4 linked regions of the Homo sapiens genome follow. The protein of the gene in region 1 interacts with the protein of each later gene in a pairwise test. Each region holds a gene or a part of one and is shown on either strand. Other genes may lie near its edges.

The links.
Region 2: the proteins of USP19 (region 1) and HNRNPAB interact in a two-hybrid assay, tested with the Homo sapiens proteins (one study listed by BioGRID).
Region 3: the proteins of USP19 (region 1) and CKAP5 interact in a two-hybrid assay, tested with the Homo sapiens proteins (one study listed by BioGRID).
Region 4: the proteins of USP19 (region 1) and ECEL1 interact in a two-hybrid assay, tested with the Homo sapiens proteins (one study listed by BioGRID).

What each region holds. Positions count from the first base shown.
Region 1 is NC_000003.12:49,107,545-49,110,854, reverse strand, and holds the end of USP19 (ubiquitin carboxyl-terminal hydrolase 19), read left to right. Parts: coding exon 1-144; intron 145-250; coding exon 251-411; intron 412-492; coding exon 493-671; intron 672-1,669; coding exon of another isoform or gene 1,670-1,897; exon of another isoform or gene 1,898-2,182; intron 2,183-2,326; coding exon 2,327-2,443; 3' UTR 2,444-2,805; downstream 2,806-3,310. UniProt on the Homo sapiens protein: Deubiquitinating enzyme that regulates the degradation of various proteins by removing ubiquitin moieties, thereby preventing their proteasomal degradation. Stabilizes RNF123, which promotes CDKN1B degradation and contributes to cell proliferation.
Region 2 is NC_000005.10:178,199,798-178,207,548, forward strand, and holds the start of HNRNPAB (heterogeneous nuclear ribonucleoprotein A/B), read left to right. Parts: upstream 1-4,735; 5' UTR 4,736-4,943; exon of another isoform or gene 4,944-5,017; 5' UTR 5,018-5,040; coding exon 5,041-5,249; intron 5,250-6,044; coding exon 6,045-6,213; intron 6,214-6,934; coding exon 6,935-7,093; intron 7,094-7,296; coding exon 7,297-7,428; exon of another isoform or gene 7,429-7,751. UniProt on the Homo sapiens protein: Binds single-stranded RNA. Has a high affinity for G-rich and U-rich regions of hnRNA. Also binds to APOB mRNA transcripts around the RNA editing site.
Region 3 is NC_000011.10:46,759,250-46,766,285, reverse strand, and holds part of CKAP5 (cytoskeleton-associated protein 5), read left to right. Parts: intron 1-1,029; coding exon 1,030-1,155; intron 1,156-2,655; coding exon 2,656-2,805; intron 2,806-3,106; coding exon 3,107-3,310; intron 3,311-3,523; coding exon 3,524-3,659; intron 3,660-3,786; exon of another isoform or gene 3,787-3,897; intron 3,898-4,092; coding exon 4,093-4,286; intron 4,287-5,501; coding exon 5,502-5,674; intron 5,675-6,843; coding exon 6,844-7,017; intron 7,018-7,036. UniProt on the Homo sapiens protein: Binds to the plus end of microtubules and regulates microtubule dynamics and microtubule organization. Acts as a processive microtubule polymerase. Promotes cytoplasmic microtubule nucleation and elongation. Plays a major role in organizing spindle poles.
Region 4 is NC_000002.12:232,479,291-232,484,834, reverse strand, and holds the end of ECEL1 (endothelin-converting enzyme-like 1), read left to right. Parts: coding exon 1-34; intron 35-238; coding exon 239-363; intron 364-611; coding exon 612-834; intron 835-1,320; coding exon 1,321-1,419; intron 1,420-1,655; coding exon 1,656-1,730; intron 1,731-1,880; coding exon 1,881-1,984; intron 1,985-2,226; coding exon 2,227-2,285; intron 2,286-2,365; coding exon 2,366-2,417; intron 2,418-2,985; coding exon 2,986-3,053; intron 3,054-3,204; coding exon 3,205-3,329; intron 3,330-3,678; coding exon 3,679-3,744; intron 3,745-4,021; coding exon 4,022-4,117; intron 4,118-4,359; coding exon 4,360-4,436; intron 4,437-4,582; coding exon 4,583-4,682; 3' UTR 4,683-5,008; downstream 5,009-5,544. UniProt on the Homo sapiens protein: May contribute to the degradation of peptide hormones and be involved in the inactivation of neuronal peptides.

The sequences.
Region 1 (3,310 bases):
ACAGTGCAAACAGCACCGTGAGGCCTCCAAGCAGCTGTTGCTATGGCGCCTGCCAAATGTTCTCATCGTGCAGCTCAAGCGCTTCTCCTTTCGTAGTTTTATCTGGCGTGACAAGATCAATGACTTGGTGGAGTTCCCTGTTAGGTAAGCAGTGGACCTTGGTAACTGTGGGTGGGGTGTGAGGACCAGGATGGGCATCCTGAGCGCCTGTTGCCTGTCTCACCCCTCCCTGACTGGACCTGACCTGCAGGAACCTGGACCTGAGCAAGTTCTGCATTGGTCAGAAAGAGGAGCAGCTGCCCAGCTACGATCTATATGCTGTCATCAACCACTATGGAGGCATGATTGGTGGCCACTACACTGCCTGTGCACGCCTGCCCAATGATCGTAGCAGTCAGCGCAGTGACGTGGGTGAGGGCACACACAGCCAGCAGGATAGGTGGTAGGGGTGGTGGTGCAGACTTTGTTCACACTCTTCCCACCCTGCTGTAGGCTGGCGCTTGTTTGATGACAGCACAGTGACAACGGTAGACGAGAGCCAGGTTGTGACGCGTTATGCCTATGTACTCTTCTACCGCCGGCGGAACTCTCCTGTGGAGAGGCCCCCCAGGGCAGGTCACTCTGAGCACCACCCAGACCTAGGCCCTGCAGCTGAGGCTGCTGCCAGCCAGGTGAGGCATGTGGGAGGCTTTACAGAATACTGGGGGACAGTTCACAGACTGGGGCCGGGTTGGGGGATATAGCTTCCTCTCCTCCAGCCACAGGCCCATTGAGCCTTGGGATTCATGAGAATTGCAGAGTTCTCTTAACATCAAAGCTTTAGCCAGAGGCATCCCCATGCCTTGGGGACACTAACAAACATACAAGTACACTAACATGCTGCCACTGGCAAGCACATTGGCACCTACTTGGCACAGGTCAGGCAACTGCTCTGAACCTCACTGGGCACTATGCTGTGAATGAACTATACCTGACACTCTCCTAGATTTCCTCTGCACATTCCCCACATGCTGGCCCACACACCCTCACTTGTGATGTCCCTGAGTTCTAGTGTGCACTCAAGACAAGGCCTATTTGGGCTGGCCATGGCCTCTGGTGGCTGTTATACTCTTTGAGGTAAGCATCTGTCTTTGCTGAGCCTTCAGGATCTTCTCTTTAGTGACATGGTGTGCCATAGGCCCAGTTAGTGGGCGTAGGCACATCTCTTTTCTGGACTGGCCGTCTCCTTTCTGGCTCCATCCTCTCTTGAGCCTTCTCTGTCAAGCTTAGAGAAATCCTTGCAGAAGACTGGTCAGGATCTGGGTATGGGTGGGAAGGAGCAAGGAGATTGCTCTGGGATTGGCAGTCCTGTTCTCTATGAATCGGTGTCCTTTGGGGAGGCCTGGACTGAAATACTAACCAGATAACTCCCCTCCCACCTCCATGCGGAGCTGCATGTGGATTGAGAGCTGTTTAGGGTAGGCCAAAATGCTGTCAAGATTCTCTTACCCTTGTGCTCTTACTCTGGACAGCCCTGAGGTTGGCTGCCTGCCTTCCTCCTTGCTGTTTGATCTAGAATGCAGGGTGTTAGCCCCAGTCACCCCAGGTGGGACTGTCATGGCTAAGGGTCTCAGGGACACTGGGTCCTCCCCACCCCCGGGGTGCTGATGGCCGTTTCCACATACCCTAGGCTTCCCGGATTTGGCAGGAGCTGGAGGCTGAGGAGGAGCCGGTGCCTGAGGGGTCTGGGCCCCTGGGTCCCTGGGGGCCCCAAGACTGGGTGGGCCCCCTACCACGTGGCCCTACCACACCAGATGAGGGCTGCCTCCGGTACTTTGTCCTGGGCACCGTGGCGGCTTTGGTGGCCCTCGTGCTCAACGTGTTCTATCCTCTGGTATCCCAGAGTCGCTGGAGATGAGCTCGCCTGCAGGCAGCTGCTGTGAGCTGGCCTACCTGCCTGCCCCAGGCCATGCCTGCCTTTGTTGTGGGGAACACCTCTGGGCTTTGGGCCTCAGCTTATGCATCTGGTGGGAGAGGGTGGGGAGGTTGTGGCCCCTGCAGGGGCAGAGTATCCTAGGGTGTGTATCCATCTGGCTGTCTGTCCATTCATCCTGCTGCTCTGACCCTTGGCCTCAGGCTTGGCCCTGCCCAAGCTACTTCCTGTACTTAAAAGTGTTAATAAAACCAGACTATTCAGGCCCAATCTCGTCTCTCTGTCTCAACGCCGCTGCTGTCTGCGCCTGCCTTGGGACCCTCCCTTGGGTGCCAGGGCTCCAAGCCAGCACCCCCGGGATGCCAGGCGGCATGCTGGGCAGCCCCCAACCCCTGTCCTCGTATTCTGTTGCAGGGACTAGGCCCTGGCCAGGCCCCCGAGGTGGCCCCCACGCGGACAGCCCCTGAACGCTTCGCCCCCCCTGTGGATCGGCCAGCCCCCACCTACAGCAACATGGAGGAGGTGGATTAGCAGGTCCCTGGCTGATGGGGGGGACTGGGTTTGGGACACCCACACAGAGGGCCAGCTCCTTGCCGCTTCTCCTTCTCTAACCCAGAGGACACTGGCTCTGTCAATGGGAAGCTGAGGGGTATGATTTGGGTGTGGAGACCTCTCAGGTTGGGACTTCTTGTCAGCTTGGACCCCTGACCAGTGGGCTTTGGCTTCTCCAGCCGCCTCCAGTGCTGCGTGATTTGATTCTGTTGTACCTTCAATTCTTCTGACCCGCATTATAAACATTATAATTTTATTCTAAAAATTGTAATTTTTTTTGCATTTTGGAAGTGACTGCTGCTGTTTAAATATATTTTAAAAATAAATAATAAGTAAGTAGACTTAGTGACTGTGATCCACCACATGCTGGGGCCACCTCCCCTCCCCATCATTTGCGGTGTGTATGTGTGTGTATGTGTGTTTATATATGAGAGACCCTGAAAGTGCCCTAGTCTGAAGGGAGATGATGGGGTCCCAGCTCATGTCCTATGGGTCATGAAGCCCCCAGTGCTATCAGCTTTTTGGAGCCTACCTGCTGCTCTTTCATCCCACTGGTTCTGGATCCTACATAAGAGGCAGCTTGGTAGGCATCGTCAGGATCTCAATATAGCCAAGGGACAGAGGAGTATATGAAGCACTGGAGCTGACAGCGTGGAGTAAAAGGTGCATTCACCAGAGCAGCCTGGGGCTGACAAGTCAGGGAGGACTTGGGGGACAGAAGTACTGGGAGATCTTCCTCCTCCTCTCCTGTCCTCAGCTTTTTCTTTGCTGTAACTTGAACACTAACTGCATCCCTGCAGGTAACAGAGCAGGAGGAAAACTGCTGTGGGGCAGATCTTGCTGCCC
Region 2 (7,751 bases), on another chromosome or scaffold:
GAGAGTGGCAAGGAGGTGCAGCTGAGGCGACTCATGCTGGACCTTATAGGCCAGGTGGGAGGGTGAGAGTAGGCCAGGCTACAGTTTGAGAGAAAAAAAAAATCCCAAATCTCAGTGCCAGGCCCAGTACAGGTTCATTTTCAGCTTGTGTCAAATCTGATGTGGGCCGAACAGCTCTTCTCCATGAGGTAGCTCAGCCGTGTAGAACACATGGTCGCGGGGTGAAGGGAAGTCTGGACAAGGCCCCCAGTCTCCATGGCCCCAGCCTGAAAGGAACTCTTCCACTCACAGACCACACAGCAGGGGAGGCTGGCAAGGTGGGGGCACAGATTTCTGGGAGCCCCAACTGTCTGTCCCACTCGTATTCACCCGAAGTCAAGGCTAAGACTTCATCCTGACAGCACTGGGAAGTCAGCCAGGGTTTTCACACAGAGGTAGTGACAAGATGGGACTTGCATTTTCAGTTTTTCCTTTTTTCACTGTAGCTCTCAGATCTTATGACTTGTGTTTTAGAAAGATTCATCTGGCTAGAGGACTCCTCTGAAGCAGGGGAGCTGGAGTTTGGTGGAGCGGGGAAAGTGGCTGCAGCGGGAGTTGGCCACAGCAGAGGCACGATATATTTGTAGTTAACTCATGCAACTTCCACCTTGCAGGCTCAGCCAAAAAACCGAAAAAAAGAATGTGAGAAAAATCAATTCATGTAATTAAAAAACAATCCAAAAGCATTTTGTGTATGTCCTTTCCTAGATTGGAGATTGTCCACATTTTATGCATATATTCTGAATAGCCCAAACCCAGGGAGTGTATACTCTATGGGCCTTTTAAGAGATTTTCAGGGGTAACTGAGCTCCTGGCTGACTTGAGAACCTCACTGTCATGGAATTGCCCTCTACTCAGGGTCTGTAACTGAACCTAATAACAAAAGTAGGGAGGCTTGTGTCAAAAGGACTTCCTGCTGTTTCCCAAACAGTGTGGTGCCTTGCCTCTGGCAGAAACACCCTTGGATACAATATGAAGGCTTTATTTATTTATTTATGTAATTTCATTTTTTTGAGACAGAGTCTGGCTCTGTCCCCCAGGCTGGAGTGCAGTGGCACGATCTCGGCTCACTGCAAGCTCTGCCTCCCGGGTTCACACCATTCTCCTGCCTCAGCCTCCCGAGTAGCTGGGACTACAGGCGCCCCCCCACCACGCCCGGCTAATTTTTGTATTTTTAGTAAAGACAGGGTTTCACCGTGTTAGCCAGGATGGTCTCGATCCGCCTGCCTCGGCCTCCCAAAGTGCTGGGATTACAGGCGTGAGCCACCGCACCCGGCCCGGCATTTTTTATTTTTTGCTGAGACTGACCCCTACCTGCCTGCAGTTCTTTCTAGTTTATGAAGTGTTTTCTAAGCCATTACCTTATTTGAGCTTCAGGATTCTTTATTTATTTATTTATTTATTTTGAGACAGAGTCTCGCTGTGTCACTTAGCCTGGAGTGTAGTGGTGCGATCTCGGCTCGATGCAACCTCCATCTCCCAGGTTCGAGTGATTCTTGTGCCTCAGCCTCCCGAGCAGGGGGGACTACAGGCCTGGGCCACCATGCCCAGACTTTTTTTTGTATTTTTAGTAGAGATGGGGGTTCCACCATGTTGCTCAGGCTGGTCTCAAACTCCTGGCCTCATGGGATTCTCCTGCCTTGGCTTACCAAAGTGGTGGGATTACGGGCGTGAGCCACCACGCCCAGCTGAGCCTCAGAATAAATTAGATCTTTGATAGGAGATCTAATTTACATCAAGGAACTCAGAAGCTCAGACACACCTTGTCCCACAGTAGCCAGGAGCCCTGGAAACAATCCCCAATGTGGAGTTGGACGTGTTGGTTTCATGGCCACAGTTTTAGCTGTGGTTTCAGTATTCTTGTGTATAAAATATGGGTAACTGCACAAAGCTATTTTGAAGCTCCAGTAAAGCAAGGTTGGTGAAAGCATTTTGCAAACTGCTAAGCGCTGTCCAAATGTTGTATCCTCAGACTTTACACGTCACTGAAAGTGTTTCTGAGTCGTGCTAAAGAAATCCACGTGGAAGATTAAGGGAATTTATGCCTGCAGTAATGTCTTTGGGCTGCACCTACACTATTTGACTTTGAACTTAATTTCCTGAATTACCTTCACTGCTTGGGGAGCTGTGCCCATCATCTCCTGCAGGCCACAGCCCTGGCCCTCATTTCTGTGGGTTGGCAAGGGCTGGGGTGGAGGTGGGGTGAGCAGTTTGTTAGAGACCGCCCTGAAAGCCTTGCTGCCAGATCTCAGTGACATGAGTAAGGTCGTGTGGAAATATGTGACTTCCTGTTATGGAATTAGCCTGGGACAGTGAAGAGTGGCCTTGGGGTGAACCAGAGGGCACTTGCCCACCTGGGTATGGGTATCCCAGCTGCACTTGATTGTTACTTTGGGGGAAGGCAGTACAGTGTGAGCTAAATCTTCGGACTTTCCTAGAGAAGCCTGAAATCCACGTATCTTCATTTTTCATTCTCAGGGCAACTCCAGTGCCTGGGTGGAGTTAGTGCCTGAGTTGGTTGTGTAGCTTTGGGCCGCTGCTCTTGACTTCAGTTTTCTCATTTAAAATTGGTGATCCACCTGAGATCAGGAGTTCAAGACCAGCCTGGTCAACATGGTAAAACCCCATCTCTACTAAAAATACAAAAATTAGCCCGGCATGGTGGAACACACCTGCAATCCCAGCTACTCAGGAGGCTGAGGCAGGAGAATCGCTAGAACCTGGGAGGTGGAGGTTGCTGTGAGCTGAGATGGCTCCACTGTACTCCAGCCTGGGCGACAGAGCGAGACCCCCGTCTCAAAGAAAAAAAAAACCTGGTGATCTAGCTGGGCAACATAGGGAGACCCTGTGTTTACAAAAAATTCGCTTGGCGTGGTGGCCACGTTTCTGGTTCCAGCTACTTGGGAGGCTGAGGCAGGAGGCTCATTTGAGCCCGGGAGGTTGAAGCTGCAGTAAGCCGTGATCGTGCCACTGGACTCCAGCCTGGGTTACAGAACAAAACCTTGTGTCAAAAAATAAAATAAATAAAATTGGTGACCATACCACCTTACTTTGGTTGTTAAGATACAGAAGAGAAAATGGAATGCCCAGCCCACCACACTGGTCCTGGCTGCAGGAATCCACTGGAAACGCTAGTTCCTTGTGTTCTGGGTTGCTATTTGGTAACCTGCAGGCTCCAGAGGTTGTAATCCTGCTTGCCTTGGGGCCCACCACCCATATGATTAAAAGGAATAACGGGATTACCGAGGCCTTTAAAATTTTGTGGTCAAGGAGATAATATAAAGGAGTTTTGTGTATTAGGAAGAGAACAACGCCCCCACCCTGTCCTTTACCTCGTGAGTTCACGAGTGGTGTATTTGTTTTGTTTTGTTTTTGAGACGATGTCTCGCTCTGTCGCCCAGGCTGGAGTGCAGTGGCGAGATCTCGGCTCACTGCAAGCTCCGCCTCCCGGGTTCACGCCATTCTCCTGCCTCAGCCTCCCGGTAACTGGGACTACAGGCGCCCACCACCACGCCCGGCTAATTTTTTTGTATTTTTAGTAGAGACGGGGTTTCACCATGTTCGCCAGGATGGTCTCGATCTCCTGACCTCGTGATCCGCCCGCCTGGACCTCCCAAAGTGCTGGGAGTACAGGCGGGAGCCACCGCGCCCGGCCTCCGTATTTGTTTAAAAAAAAAAAAAAAAAAAAAAAGGCCGGGCGCGGTGGCTCACGCCTGTAATCCCAGTACTTTGGGAGGCCCAGGCGGGCGGATCACGAGGTCAGGAGATCGAGACCATCCTGGCCAACATGGTGAAACCCCGTCTCTACTAAAAAAACAAAAAAATTAGCCGGGCGTGGTGGCGCATGCCTGTAATCCCAGCTACTCGGGAGGCTGAGACAGGAGAATCGCTTGAACCCGGGAGGCGGAGGTTGCGGTGAGCCGAGATCGCGCCATTGCACTCCAGTCTGGGCGACAAGAGCAAGACTCCATCAAAAAAAAAAAAATAATAAAAAGGAAGAAAAAGAAAGACAAATGATTTACAGGAAAAAATTTAAGTAAACAAAAGTACAAATGCGATGTCAATCGTTCAGGTGGTGCCAGGGGACAGAGAACCGGGGAACACCAAGGTCTCATCGTCCCTGCAGAGCATCTCTGGGGGAGGCGACGGACAGGGCGCGAGCGCGGGGCTTGGAGGGCACCAAGGTCCAGGGGGATGGCGGGTTCAGTCCCAATCCCTCCGACCCGTGCTGAGGGCCTTGGAGGACCCCACTCGCCCAACCTCGGAAGCCCGGGTTCTGCCACTTCCAGCCACGCGTCCTTGGGCTGCGAAACTTTCTCCAGCCCAGTTTCCTCTTTTGGGACATGGGGAGGCGGAGGCTGCCAATGCTGGGATGGAGTCCTCGAGAGCAAGAGACCAGCGGCCTCGACGAGCTTACAATCCGATTAGGCCCTCCCACCGATGTGCTGTAGCTGCCCGCCGCCCTGGACCCGGCGCCGTCCCGCCCGGCTTCGGGAGCCCTCCGTAGCGGCCGGACTCGCGCGCGTTCTAAAATGAGGACAAAGCCCGCCCAGGTCTAGAGCGCGCGCGCCGTGGCGGCCAATGGGACGCTGAAGCTAGGTTGAGTGACGGACTTGAGCAGCCAATGAGTGTGCAGTTTGTTGCGATGTGGCACCCGGCTCCGGCATTATAAAGGGCGCCACGAGTCGGCATTGTCAGGCGGCGGCACCGCGCGGGACGGAGCTTGGCTGTTGGTCGGTGGGTTCCCGTGCGGCGGCGGCCAAGGAGGAGGAGACACAGTTGGAGCAGCTCCGTGGGCTGACTGGGGCGAGGCCTCAGCAGCGCGAGCTTGAGTGCGGCCGAGCCTGCGGCGCCTTCCCCTGCGGGTGGGGACGAGCGGGCCCCGCGGCGTCATCGGCGGCGAGGTGAGCGGCGGCCGGCGGGCGGGAGCTCTGGCGGGAGCCGCGCCGGCCTGACGCGCTGTCGCCGCTGGTTGCAGGAGCCGCCGCGCCTCGGCCTAGCATGTCGGAAGCGGGCGAGGAGCAGCCCATGGAGACGACGGGCGCCACCGAGAACGGACATGAGGCCGTCCCCGAAGGCGAGTCGCCGGCCGGGGCTGGCACGGGCGCCGCGGCGGGGGCTGGAGGCGCGACCGCGGCGCCCCCGAGCGGGAATCAGAACGGCGCCGAGGGCGACCAGATCAACGCCAGCAAGAACGAGGAGGACGCGGGGTAGGTGCGGCCGCGGGCGGACGGGGGCGCCGCCTTTGTTCCGGGGCCGCCTTTTGTTGGCGCCACGCGGCGGGGGGAGGGGCGGCGGCCTGGCCCGGGTCGGGGCTGGTGCGGCCCGCGGACTGTCGCCGCTGCGTTCGCGGGCCGGGCCTGGCGCTGCCACTCGCGCTGGAGTTTGCGGGAGTTTGTTGGGTCGACTTTGGCGCCGCCCCGGGGCCGCTCGCGCGCTGCCAGGGCCAGGGCCAGGGCCGGAGCCGGCGCAGGGGCGGGCGGATGGCCCGGAAGAGGGAAAGCGCTCGGACCCGGGGCCCGGCGGCGTCTTGGGCCGCGCCGGCGGCTGCGTGGGCGGAGTTGGCGCGAGCCGGGGCCCGGACCTCCCTCCTCCGCCTCTCCCGGGGGCGGAGTCACGGTCTGAACCCTGGGCGGGCTTGGTCCCCGGAAACATCGAGTTCCTTGAAACGAGTTCTCAGGAGTTGGTGGAGACGCTGGCCCTTTGCTACATGGTTGTAGAACACATGAATTTCCAGTTATGAGTGGTTAGGTCCCATACCCCTGGTGAGGTGGTCCCTTCTTTGCTTCTCACAGGCTGGGGCTGCAGAGCCTTGTTAAGCCTCGTTAGGGTCCTGGTTGAGTTCAATTTGGAGGGTAGTGGAGATTTAACATCTTTCTAAGGTGCTCCTTGCAGACTCTAAGGGTAGCTGTAGACTTCGTGAGAACTTTGCCAGGGCCAGTCCTTTCCAAAATCACAGCTTGCTTACAAGACTTGTTGCCGTGTGTCTCACCCTACCATTTCAGAAAAATGTTCGTTGGTGGCCTGAGCTGGGATACTAGCAAAAAAGATTTAAAAGACTATTTTACTAAATTTGGAGAGGTCGTTGACTGTACAATAAAAATGGATCCCAACACTGGACGGTCAAGAGGGTTTGGGTTTATCCTGTTCAAAGATGCAGCCAGTGTGGAGAAGGTAAGCTGGGTACTGGATTTCAGCAGTCTCAGTGGAAACGATTTGAATTCTAAGAGGACACCTTTCTTAAAGCATGACTAGTTTGTGTGGTCTGCATGTGATTTAAGTGCTTTGGGCAAAACCCAAAGCCGGAGGTTATGTTCCGGTTTTTGAGGGGATGAAAATACAGATTAAGCTGGGAGTGAGAGAATGTGCTGGAGTGGTTCGGGAAGATGACAGTTGACATTCATTACCTTTTATGTGCCTATTCTGGGTACGGCGCTAAACATCTGGGAGGATTACAAGAGAGTCCATGATTGGTATGATAGGCTTTTAGCCCCATTTTACAGGACAAAAACCAAAACCCTAAGGCTCAGAAATGTAAGTAGAAGAGGTCACAGCTAGTAGGGAGTGGAGGGAGGATTCCTTCCCCTGTGGCCCATCTTCAGCCTATGCTCCGAGTCCCTGCTGCTTCGCTTCTGGAGATGGGCCTCACGCTGGGACTGCTTGGGCAGGAAGAGCATGATCAAAGGCTTAAGTGTGAGGACTGTTTTCTAGGTGTCGAGGTAAACCAGCTGTACTTGAGGTTTGATGAAAATTGGGTTGGGAGGTTAAGCTGGGGTAGAATTTGGAGGGGGTGAAACACATGTTTGTATCTGTACTGGTGTCTTTATGGCTTAGAGAGAAGGGCCTTGTCTGGCTCGTGCTGCTGAGTCAGCCTGACCCCTTTCTGTTGGAACAGGTCCTAGACCAGAAGGAGCACAGGCTGGATGGCCGTGTCATTGACCCTAAAAAGGCCATGGCTATGAAGAAGGACCCGGTGAAGAAAATCTTCGTTGGGGGTCTGAATCCTGAAGCCACTGAGGAAAAGATCAGGGAGTACTTTGGCGAGTTTGGGGAGGTGAGTGTGGCTCTGGGAATAGCCCATCAGCTGCCCCTAAGGCTGCCTTCTTTCTGGTCCTTGGTATCCTTGGCTGGCTAGACCCTCCCAGGCAGGGCTTATTTTTCACCCTCTGTCTTCAATGGGGTCTTTTCTCCTGTGAGTCCCCTATATGCTCTGGGGTAGGGAGGTATTGGGCCTGAGTTTGCCTATGCTTTTTGCAGATTGAGGCCATTGAATTGCCAATGGATCCAAAGTTGAACAAAAGACGAGGTTTTGTGTTTATCACCTTTAAAGAAGAAGAACCCGTGAAGAAGGTTCTGGAGAAAAAGTTCCATACTGTCAGTGGAAGCAAGGTAAGGTGTTCCCAGCTCTGCTTGGCCTCCTGTGCTGCTGGAGAGCTGGCCCTTAGAGGGATGGGTTAGGGGTTGGGCCTCATGCAGGAGCTCTCCAGGTTGGTCAGACTTTACTATTTCTCTGAAGCGTATGCTGCCCTGATTGGGGCAGTGTTCCAATCCTTGAAAGACTTCTCAGGCTGGGAGGACTGCCAATAAACAACACAGGATGTGAGGGAGGTAGGAGAAGGTGGCCTCTGTGAATAGAGCAGGTTGAGTAGCCTCTTTAGCTCCTCACTTAAAGCTAGAGGTGACAGTTCTAGATTCTTGAGTCCAGGGGTATG
Region 3 (7,036 bases), on another chromosome or scaffold:
TCCCAATCTTTTTAAACTTACGAAGCAGTTTCATATAAATGATCTCATATTTGTTTGGTCTGAATGACATTAGTGTTTATACTAGAAAGAAATTGTGGCCAACTAGAAATAGTGGCCATGCTACATTTATAATAATAATGATTCCAGTAATGAAATTTGAATTTTACCTTAAATATGTGTACTATTGTTTACTATTTTCTTTCTATCTGATATGAAGATTTTAAATCTTGGATTATTTTTTAAAACCACTTTAGTGACTTAAATATTTAAAGCATTTCTTGTAACTTTCTCTAGAAGCAAGTTCAAAAGGTCTTCAGTTACACTGTTATGATAAGAGATACATTTAAATATCAATGGAAAGAAACAGAAAAGCTTTCAAACTAAGTGTTTGGAAATGTGTAAATGCCATTCAAGATGTCATTAATGGCTGAGGTGGGTGGATCACTTGAGGTCAGGAGCTCGAGACCAGCCTGGACAACATGGTGAAACCCTGTCTCTACTAAAAATACAAAAATTAGCCAGGGGTGGTGGTGGGCGCCTTTGGTCCCACCTACTGAGGAGGCTGAGTCAGGAGAATCACTTGAACCTAGGAGGTGGAGATTGCAGTGAGCTGAGATCACGCCACTGCACTCCAGCCTGGGCGACAGAGTGAGACTCCGTCTCAAAAAAAAAAAAAAAAAAAAAAAGATGTCATTAATATGGAAAGCTATAAATAGTGTTGAAGATTTCAAGAAAACAAAAACAAAAAGTTTGTGACCTAGACTAATGATCAGTAATAGCAGTTTTTCCAACTACATAACATGCCAGTCCAAGAACTAACCAACAGTTACTTAAGAATATTCTCAGAAAAATTTCTAGAGAACCTGTTCAAAAACATATACAAGATTCTGTGATGCATGTTTTTTTCATGTGAAATATCACGTAGAAAGATATCTCTGTTTTCTACAGTGCCCTTTTACTGGGCAGCAGCATCATATTCTTAAGGAGAAGTGGCCAAGCTAATCAGTATTCCCTGAACCTTGGTTGTAGAGTGCACAAGGGAAGAAGATGCCAAGCAAAACCAGCTTAAAGGAGGATGAAGACAAATCCGGGCCTATTTTTATTGTTGTTCCAAATGGAAAAGAGCAAAGGATGAAAGATGAAAAAGGATTGAAGGTAAGGAAGGATTAAGAATCGTCAGGAGATTTTTGCTTGTATTGTTATTCAAGAATAGTTTTGCTGTCTGAATTCATGTTATTGTTTAATATCTAGGAATTAAGTGTTTCTTTTGCTTATAAATTATATTATTTAGTTTATGGGAGCATTAATTCCTACAAAAGAAACTATAGAATAGAGTTATTGCCTATTTTTCCCTGTAAATAGAAATAAATGATTTAGTAGCTTTTTTGGTATCTTCATTGATTTTTTTTTTTAATTAATTGGATGTATAAGCTTCTTCATTAATCCTTCTTTTTAAGACCTTACAAGGCAGACTTTGTGACTGTATAAATGGCTAGTTCAGTCATTTATGTTACTTTGATTTCATTAGATACTTAAATTTGTTTTCAAAATACATAATCTTTTTTAAAAATTATATGCAGTACAGAAAGTGCAAAGTATAGTAAGAAAAGCATGTCTCTGTTCCAGTATCCCTCCACAGGGAGGATATTAGTCCTCATTTTTTCAATGTATTACTCCAGAAATATTTTATACCTCTACTATCATATGTATATTTTTATATAGCCCTCCTTTTATACAGATGGCATATACAGACATGCCGTACTGTTTGTTCTGTATCTCACTATTTTCTTTTAATGATGTTTGAAATATCTGAAAGATCATTCGTATCTGTGTATATATGTGTGTATCACTGTTTGTATTGGTGCATTGTATGTATGTACCTTTCTTTATCCTTCGCCCACTATGTTGGACATTTAGGTTGTTTCTGGTCTTTCACTATTACAAACACTGCTGCTGTGAATATCTTTGAATGTAGGTCTTTGTACACATATGTGAGTGTATCTATATTAAACTCCTAGAATGATGATATGCATAATTTTGATAGATATTTCAAATTTTCTCTCTATCAAAGATGTGGCAGCAGTGTCCACCATGTTATATAGTTATATGTAGGATTAATTTTTTTTTTTTCTTTAGTAAGAATTGCAAGGCCAGGCACAGTGGCTCATGCCTGTCATCCCAACAATTTGGGAGGCTAAGGCAGGCAAATTGCCTGAGCCCAGGAATTCAAAACCAGCCTGGACAACATATTGAGACTTCATCTCTACGAAAAAAATTTTTTAATTAGCTGGGCATAGTGGTGCATGTCTGTAGTCCCAGCTACTTGGGGGGCTAAGGCAGAAGAATCACTTGAGCCTGGGAGGTTAATGCTACAGTGATCTATGATCATGCCACTGCACTCTGCCATGCCCAGGCAACAGGTGAGACTCTGTCTCAAAAACAAACAATTCCAAAAATTTTTATTCCTAGAAGATTTTCAGAGTTGTTAAGCTTCAAGAAGTATGACACCTTGAAATTTGCATTCATATTTAATTACAAATGAATATTGTTGAATTTTTAAATATTTTATTGTTCCTGCAGCTGCATTATATAAGGCTCTCTACCTCATTTCAGTTGAACACCCTGTAGCCCCTTTTCACCGTTTGTTTTTTCCAGGTGCTAAAGTGGAATTTTACTACCCCACGGGATGAATACATTGAGCAACTAAAGACTCAAATGTCTAGCTGTGTGGCTAAATGGTTACAAGATGAGATGTTTCACTCAGACTTTCAGCATCATAACAAAGCCCTTGCTGTTATGGTTGATGTAAGTCTGCAATAGATAAATATACATGTATTTCAGACATGTAAAAATACCGAGCCCTATGAAATAATCTGAAGTTTGCATGACTTGGAAGTAGAATATACTATGTTCTCTATTTTTAGAGCTGTCTTGTTATTTGGTAGAATAAATGAATGTGTGTGTATATTTTTTAGGTCTTAATTGAAGGCTTAAAAATCTGTCATTTTCTTTTTGGGCTCCAATAAAATTTAAAAGACACTTGCCTAGTAGAATTAAGATTTTGATTATTCTTATTTGTGGGAGTTTTGTTTTGTTTTATTTTAAGCACTTGGAGAGTGAAAAAGAAGGAGTTATTGGTTGCCTGGATCTTATCTTAAAGTGGCTTACCCTGAGGTTTTTTGACACCAATACAAGCGTCCTGATGAAAGCACTAGAATATTTAAAATTGCTCTTCACCTTGCTAAGTGAAGAAGAATATCATCTTACTGAGAATGAAGCATCTTCCTTCATCCCCTATCTTGTCGTCAAGGTAATGTGGTGTTCTCTCTCTGGGAGACTGCTTAAGTTCCCAGCTGACCTCAGTTTCTGTACTTTTATTTCCTCTCCCTTTTTTACTGATTATATCACGGTACCTTCCCTACTTATCCCTATTTCCCTATTCTTTCAAAACATAGTAATGCATGGGAGAATCATTGCTACTTAGGAAATGCCTCACTTAATCATTATTTTCCTTATCGACTAGGTTGGAGAACCAAAGGATGTCATTCGTAAAGATGTTCGTGCCATCCTGAACCGGATGTGCCTTGTCTACCCAGCTAGCAAGATGTTTCCCTTTATCATGGAAGGAACCAAATCCAAAAACTCTAAGCAGAGAGCAGGTGAAGCAAACAGTTTAAACTGAGATGTGAATCTCTGCAGCAGTAGCCTATAGAAGAAATAGTTTATAGATGAACAAATAAATTTCTCCAGTGCCTATGTAGTTGATTCCAACCTCCTGATTTAGACTGTGAGAGTGATGAGTTGCACACTGGTGGAGCCATGGTATCAGGTGATACAGGCACCACTCAGTATCACCCTGGTGACAAAATCAAGTGCACAGGGGCCATCTGACTCACAGGCATCTCTTCCTTTCAGGAGCACTTGCTGAAATACCATTTTTTCACTGATAAAAGGCAGTAAACAAAAAATCCTAGGCAGAGCCAGAGTAAGGTTTTAGTCCTTCATATATGCCAAGGGAAATTTCTCTAGTAAGGATAAGTCTCTGTCCCAAATATGTGTTGTCTCATTAATCTAGCCTTTCTCCCCCATCAGAGTGCCTGGAAGAGCTGGGATGTCTGGTTGAGTCCTATGGCATGAATGTTTGCCAACCAACCCCAGGAAAAGCCTTAAAGGAAATAGCTGTTCACATAGGAGACCGTGACAATGCTGTACGCAATGCTGCACTCAACACCATTGTAACGGTGTACAATGTACATGGGGATCAGGTGTTCAAACTGATTGGAAATGTGAGTGACTTCTCTGAACACTGTCAGCATGTCGTGAAAAGAATTGCAAGATCTCCTAGGTGTTAGGTTTCCTGTCCTCTCAACTGTAGCTAAGTTTTTACTACTTTTTAGTCAACTCAACCTATCAATGTGTCCTAGAATCCAGATAGACCCTTGAGGTGTCTCTGATTAGGCTGTTTTAATGGAAATCAAGTTTTCTTTTCTGAGCATTCTATTCATAGCAAATTTGCTTTAGAAATGAGTGCTATTTTTGAATCAAGAAATCTGAGCTAGTCCCGGGTTTAAATTCTGCCTGGCAGTCTGCTCTGTAATTTTTACTGCATCGAGTTTTTGGTTAAAAAGTGCTTATTTGTGTATAGTGTGGATGCTAGTATCTGTCAGATCACATCTTGCGCTACAGCCGTGAGCCAGTTTTTCACTCACATTAGGTTCTGCCTCTGACCTCTTATTTCGTTTGAGTGAGTCTGGACCTCCGTCTTCAGTTACCTCATAGTGTCACCATGTATTTACACAGGGCTTAAATATGTTTACTTATATTTTCTAATTAAATTCTCACTACTACCCAGTGAAGAATATAAAGCAGTTGGGAATTTTACAGATGACCAAAAATGAAGTTTCTTGCCCATAGTCACACAGCTAGATAGTGGTGACAAAACAAAAAATGAGGAAGCTTCATTTAATTTTTGACCTTTTTATTTGTAGTTACTAATTGGCTTTCTTTTTTTTATCGTTTCTTTTTTTTTTTTTTTTTGAGACAGGGTCTTGCTCTGTCACCTAGGTTGGAGTGCAGTGGTGTGATCATGGTTCACCGCAGCCTCGACCTCCCAGGCTCAAGTGATCCTCTGACTTCAGCCTCCTGAGTAGCAAGGACTACAGGCGCGTGCCACCACACCCAGCTTATTTTTATACTTTATGTATAGATGGGGTTTCACCATGTTGCCCAAGCTGGTGTCAAACTCCTGGGCTCAAGTGATCCTCCTGCTTTGGCCTCCCAAAGTGCTGGGATTACATGCATGAGCCACTGTGCCCAGCCCCTCTCCTTCTTTCATATCTCCTCTTCCTATAGCAGCTAGGCAGGTATTAATAGTAGTTGATTTTGAAATGTGGTGCTTTGAAAGTAAACATGTCCTAACATAGAAGGTTCTATTTGTTTTGATATGAAAATAGATATTATTGTGTTATCCAGTTAGGTTTCTAAATTTGGCCTCTTTACAGCTTTCTGAAAAGGATATGAGCATGCTCGAGGAGAGGATTAAGCGGTCAGCAAAGAGACCCTCTGCTGCACCAATAAAACAGGTGGAAGAGAAACCTCAGCGTGCACAGAACATAAGCTCCAATGCCAACATGTTACGCAAGGGACCAGCTGAGGACATGTCTTCCAAACTCAAGTATGTAGATAGAGATACTTGTCTGAGAGCATCTCCATGGCCTTTGCCTTGTGTGCTCACAGCCTGTCCTGTAACATAATCTTGAGTTCTTGTAGCCATTATCATGCATGACAGAGTGTCTGGGTAAATGTATTGTAACCAAATGTTTGATTCTTCAGTCTTCATTGTCTTTGTCTTTGTCTCAAAACCACTTCTAAATGGTCTTGTGCCTTCTTTCACTGCTTTTCCGTGGACAGAATTATGTATCGCACTTATAGGATGTAAGTACTGCCTGCTAATTTCTCATTAGCAGGGCTCTTATATCTTTCTAACTTCTGACTTGGATTCATCCCCTCTGGAGGGTGACTAGCTTAGAGTTTATAATCAGGGTAGAGGGTGTCCATAAGTACCCCATGAATCAAGTCTTCCACAAAAGTTCAATGTCATGTGGCTAAAATACTGATTCACTTTCTTCTTTGTGTTATACTTGGTTGTGCTTAGTTTCCTATTCTTGAGATAAGGCTAATTAAAATACATGCAACCCAAAATTGGCTTAGGGACTCAAAATACTGCCTCCTAAGCAAGACAGCTCTATTTTGGGTTGTGTCATGAGTATAATTTTAACGAACTTGAATTTGGAAACTTTGAATCCCTATTTCTTGGATGTAAAGCTGGCCCTGACCTGTCAAGAGTGAATATTCTAAAAAGGGGTGACTGGTGGTCTCACAAAATATAAAATGTGCTGAACACGGCATGGAATGGTACTTATGATTAGCAAAATTAAAGCACTGGTTAATTTGGTGGAAAAGAACCAGCCAGTCTAAATTTTTCTTATATATTTGCTCATAAGTAGTGAACTTTGAGTCAATACAAATATATTTTATTGTTTTCTGCCCCTTCAGGAATAGAAATACAAGGTTTGTTGGCTTTAGTGAACTAGAACAAATACTTATAACTTGGCAGGTAATGTAAGTACAAATTAAAGTTATCTGCCCTCTTAGGATATTCATGAACCAATGTTGTTACCTATTAAAGGCACTTGCTTAGACTCAGGGACTTAAATCATTCAGGGGGGCTGAAACCAGAAGTTGAACATCTGTCCTGAAGCTTTGGGGCAACTGACAGTGCTACTCTTGCCCTTTGGTTAAGAAGTCTCTTTTAGTTCAGGAGCCTCCTTTTGCTTCCCTTAGCCAAGCCCGAAGCATGAGTGGGCATCCTGAGGCAGCCCAGATGGTCCGCCGAGAATTCCAGCTGGATCTAGATGAGATTGAGAATGACAATGGTACAGTCCGATGTGAAATGCCAGAACTTGTTCAGCACAAACTGGATGACATTTTTGAGCCAGTCCTTATTCCTGAACCCAAGTGAGTTAAACTCTTTCAT
Region 4 (5,544 bases), on another chromosome or scaffold:
GACGCTGGGGCAGCTGCAGAAGATCACCCCCCACGTGAGTGTGGCCCAGTCCTCGTGGGCAGGCAGGGTTGAGGGCAATGCTGCTGCTGGGACTACAGGGTCATCTCTCCCCAGAGATGGGCAAACCGTTCCTTGGCCATGGACTCTCATGTCCCCTCGCTGCCTCTCTCTGCCCCCTCCCTGTCTTCTGTGGCCCCTGCCAACCCTAGCCTCACTGTCCCTGTCCTTGGTCTCACAGTTGCGGTGGAAGTGGCTGCTAGACCAGATCTTCCAGGAGGACTTCTCAGAGGAAGAGGAGGTGGTGCTGCTGGCGACAGACTACATGCAGCAGGTGTCGCAGCTCATCCGCTCCACACCCCACCGGTATGGCTGCAGATCTGGCATTTTCTGCCCAGCGGTCACTAGGTCCTTCCCCTGCACCCTGGACCTCTCTGCTGGGTGGGCTTTACATTTTCTGCTCTGCATAGCTGGGATGACCCCCTGTCCCTTCTTTGTGGGGCTGTCTGGGTCCTGGGTCCAGCCACAGGTTGGCGGGCACAGGTAGGGGTGGTGCCCTTGGTGGCCCACATGCATGTCCGTCTGGACACCCACTGGCTTCACCTGGTCCCCAGGGTCCTGCACAACTACCTGGTGTGGCGCGTGGTGGTGGTCCTGAGTGAACACCTGTCCCCGCCATTCCGTGAGGCACTGCACGAGCTGGCACAGGAGATGGAGGGCAGCGACAAGCCACAGGAGCTGGCCCGGGTCTGCTTGGGCCAGGCCAATCGCCACTTTGGCATGGCGCTTGGCGCCCTCTTTGTACATGAGCACTTCTCAGCTGCCAGCAAAGCCAAGGTGGGTTGCCCTTGTTTGAGAGAGGAGGATGGTGCTGAACTGAGGGTGGAGCCCTCCCGAGGCCATGGTCCTAATATGGGGAGCCCCACATGTCCCCTGCAGGCAGGGGGACCAGGCCCTGCTAAGTACTCAGCCGATTCTGAGGCCCCAGGCTGCTCCTCCACAGGCCTCCTCCTCCAGGAAGCTTATGTGGACTATCAACTGCAGGCAGACCTCCCTGCCAGGCCCCAGCCCACCTTCTCAGGCATGCTCGGGAGGCGTGGCCTTAGGGATGTCTGTGGTCATTGCTGGGGCAGTTTCCTCCTCTATCTTGTGAGCCCTCGGGGGTGCAGGGCCTGGATCCTCACCTCCAAAGTATCCTCTTGGTGTTCAGAAATGAGGTTTGGGCTTAGAAAGTGGTGCTTAAAGGCAGGGGTACCCCTCCTGCCAGGAGTGATAGACCAGGCTGCTGGGTTGACCCTTGCTCCCTGACCCCTGACCCTGCAGGTGCAGCAGCTAGTGGAAGACATCAAGTACATCCTGGGCCAGCGCCTGGAGGAGCTGGACTGGATGGACGCCGAGACCAGGGCTGCTGCTCGGGCCAAGGTGAGGGGGGACCCAGTGTCATTGGTTGGTCCCATATATATTGAGCACCTACTGTGTACCAGCGAAAGAGAACAAAAGGGACAAAGAGGCCTTCGTGGAGTTGACCAGGCCTGCCTCCCCCACTGTGAAGCCCACTCCCAGGCTGGCCTAGTGCTCCCTTCCTTGGTGGGTAGGGTGGGGGGCGGGGGGCTGTCTCCCGAGGCCTGGTGCCACCTTCACCTGCCCTCGGCCCGCAGCTCCAGTACATGATGGTGATGGTCGGCTACCCGGACTTCCTGCTGAAACCCGATGCTGTGGACAAGGAGTATGAGGTGGGCCCTGACCCTGCCTGCCCAGCCTGTCCACAGCCCCTCTACTAACGGCACTCAGGAGGGCAGGTGGCCTGCACGGCCAGGTTGTTGCCCAGTCTGCAGGTAGCCCTGCCCTGGCCTGCCGCTGAGTGTCGCCCGTGCCTCCTGCAGTTTGAGGTCCATGAGAAGACCTACTTCAAGAACATCTTGAACAGCATCCGCTTCAGCATCCAGCTCTCAGTTAAGAAGATTCGGCAGGAGGTGGACAAGTCCACGTGGGTGCCTGGCCCAGAGCTGGGGGTCAGGGAAGGGTTGTGGGGAAAGGGCAGGAGCTGGTAGGGCAAATCGTCTCACAGCCATGCAGATATGGGGGGCACACACGCCAGCACAGGGCATGGGGTGGGGGCCGGCAGGGTGACCCCCAGACTGTCAGGAGATGGCTGACGAGGAAGCTGTGATGTGAGGGTAGCGGGGGAGGGAGTGTGTTCCCCCCATTCACCCCAGCATCCCTCCACAGGTGGCTGCTCCCCCCACAGGCGCTCAATGCCTACTATCTACCCAACAAGAACCAGATGGGTAAGGGGATGTGTCCCTACGCCGGGCGGGGCAGGGTCCGAAAGTGGATGGGTTTCCCACTGAGCACCCCCTTCTTGTAGTGTTCCCCGCGGGCATCCTGCAGCCCACCCTGTACGACCCTGACTTCCCACAGTGAGTACATAGCTTGCCCTGTTTGTGGCTGAGGGCAGGGCTGGCATTGCAGACCTTGTCTACCAGGTGTGTGTCGGCGTACTGTGGCTCCAATCGCCCCAGACCCAGCTGGGTTCAGGAGTCAGGACAGCTGTGGACCCTGGCTCCCCACTACATCCTTGGTTATTTAGAAAAATGTGTAGGTTTGTTATTTGTAACTTCCTGGGGTCTTCTTTACTTGTTTGAGGCTCATTTTGATGTTTCAAAGGTGGCGCAACACTAATGATGAGGTAGGAGGAGAAACCCCTACGTAGGTGCCTCCGTTTCCCTCCTGTCTCCTCCAGCCCTGTTTCACTGCCCAGCCAGCTCTGTTAGATGTGATTTCCTAAAAGAAGCTGGATAGGTTCCACTGGCATTCACATAGCGCATGAGGAAGCTGAGGCACATGTGCCCCTGGACCGCACGGATGCCTCTGTGGCCTCCCTGTGCCACCTCCTGGCCCGGCCAGGGGACATCTGGGGCCTGGGCAGCAGCATGGGGCTCTCAGAGGGTGGAGGGCTAGGGCCTGATGCTGCTGCTGTGGGCCCAGGTCTCTCAACTACGGGGGCATCGGCACCATCATTGGACATGAGCTGACCCACGGCTACGACGACTGGGGTGAGGCCTGTTGGGGCCCCAGGGGATGGCCCGGAGGGGGCAGGACAGGCAGTGGAGAGGCAGGGTAGGGGATGGCCTAACTGGGGCTGGTGGGTGGGGAGGGGAGGGGGCTCAGGTGAGGGTGGGTCTCAGCCTGCTGCACTGCCCACAGGGGGCCAGTATGACCGCTCAGGGAACCTGCTGCACTGGTGGACGGAGGCCTCCTACAGCCGCTTCCTGCGAAAGGCTGAGTGCATCGTCCGTCTCTATGACAACTTCACTGTCTACAACCAGCGGGTGAGACCCCCACCTGCCCCTTGTGCCCCTCAGGCCTGGTGGGGCACGGGCCGGGAGCATCACGCACACCCTTGCGCACGTGCACATGTCCAAACAAAACCTGTGCCCAGGTCCCTGCACACACATTCGGTTCCCACGCACACTCACGTGGACAGATAATGAGTGTCCGCAGACTTACGGAGGACAAGGGGGTTGGGAGGAAAGAGTAGGGTTGGAGCCCCCCCTCAAACTCTCTGGGCAAGGGAAGGAGAGGGGTGGTAGGAATTAGGGGCTGGGGCCCAGGGTATCAATGCCTGAGGGAGGCCAGCTGGGCCCCAAGCAGCCCCCTGGCCTCTTCCCTTCCCGGCAGGTGAACGGGAAACACACGCTTGGGGAGAACATCGCAGATATGGGCGGCCTCAAGCTGGCCTACCACGTGAGCGGCCTGCCTGTGCTCCACCCCTGCTGCAGGAGGGACGGGGGCTGATGAGGACTCCAGATGAGGGACAGAGCTGCCTCTCCCTGCCCACCCTGCTGAGCTCTGGCCTGGGGTGGGGCAGGGCATGTGCTGGGGCCACGGTCCACTGGAAGAGGAAGGATTCACGGGCCCCCCTTCACAGGGAGAGCAGGGAGGGCTACCTAGATGGAGGACAGAGAAGAAGCGGTGCCCAGGGTGGGCGGGCATAGCAGGTCCATGCTCTCTGTGTCCCCAGGCCTATCAGAAGTGGGTGCGGGAGCACGGCCCAGAGCACCCACTTCCCCGGCTCAAGTACACACATGACCAGCTCTTCTTCATTGCCTTTGCCCAGGTGGGCTGGGTGGGGGATTGGACTGGGAGCCTTGGGGTGGGGACACGGCATCCAGGGTCAGTCCCAGTCCTGCCTTGCCCAGGCTTCGCATGGACAGCCTGTCTGTCATCACCTGTCCCGTCAGAGGTGATGGTCCTGTGGTGCTGAGGGGGCCTACCGCCTTGTGTGCTGGGTGGGGGGCAAGGGGGCGGATGCCTGGCTTCATCTCCCCCTCCTCCCCTCCACCCCGCTCCTGGACCCAGAACTGGTGCATCAAGCGGCGGTCGCAGTCCATCTACCTGCAGGTGCTGACTGACAAGCATGCCCCTGAGCACTACAGGTATGCCCACCTGCCCGCCTGGCCTTGTCCACTCCTTGTGTTTGGGGTGGGATCAGGGGGCATGGGAAGGAATAAAAGTCACCCCTGGTTGCTGGGGCTGGAGTGGCTGCAGGGCCCAACACTGTGTGGGTCTCTCCCCACCCCAGGGTGCTGGGCAGTGTGTCCCAGTTTGAGGAGTTTGGCCGGGCTTTCCACTGTCCCAAGGACTCACCCATGAACCCTGCCCACAAGTGTTCCGTGTGGTGAGCCTGGCTGCCCGCCTGCACGCCCCCACTGCCCCCGCACGAATCACCTCCTGCTGGCTACCGGGGCAGGCATGCACCCGGTGCCAGCCCCGCTCTGGGCACCACCTGCCTTCCAGCCCCTCCAGGACCCGGTCCCCCTGCTGCCCCTCACTTCAGGAGGGGCCTGGAGCAGGGTGAGGCTGGACTTTGGGGGGCTGTGAGGGAAATATACTGGGGTCCCCAGATTCTGCTCTAAGGGGGCCAGACCCTCTGCCAGGCTGGATTGTACGGGCCCCACCTTCGCTGTGTTCTTGCTGCAAAGTCTGGTCAATAAATCACTGCACTGTTGCCTTGGCCTCTTCACGGGTCCCCAGGGCAGGCGGAGCTGGAGAGAGCCCTCTGCAGGGAGGCTAGGGCACTTAGCACAACCGGGACCCTGGAGAGGACCTTCTTGTCTCCTGGTCGCCCTGGCTTGGCCGCCTGTGTCCAGCCTTCCTGGACTCTTCTATCTTTTCCACCAACCGACAGTACTTCCCTGGCCCAGCCGCCCTCCCCCAAAGCCTCGCCCAGGGCTTCTTGCCCAGTTCTGGGGCACCCCTAGTTCAGCCTCATGGCCTGGTGACCCGCATTCCAGGGTGATGCTGGGGCTTATGACCCCTGCAAGTCTGAAGTAGGAGAAACTTCTGCCTTGTCTTAGCCTGGCCCTTGGCCTCAGCCTCCCTGGAGAAGGGGATAGCGATCCACACTTACATGGAGGTGAGGCTGACCCACAGGACATCTCAGCCTCTCCTCCAGTGTGGAGACAGGCTTCTGGGGTGCAGAAAGGAGAGGACTGGTAGGAATGGTAGGCTCCTGGCATGAGGAGGGTGGACAGAGGCAGGGAG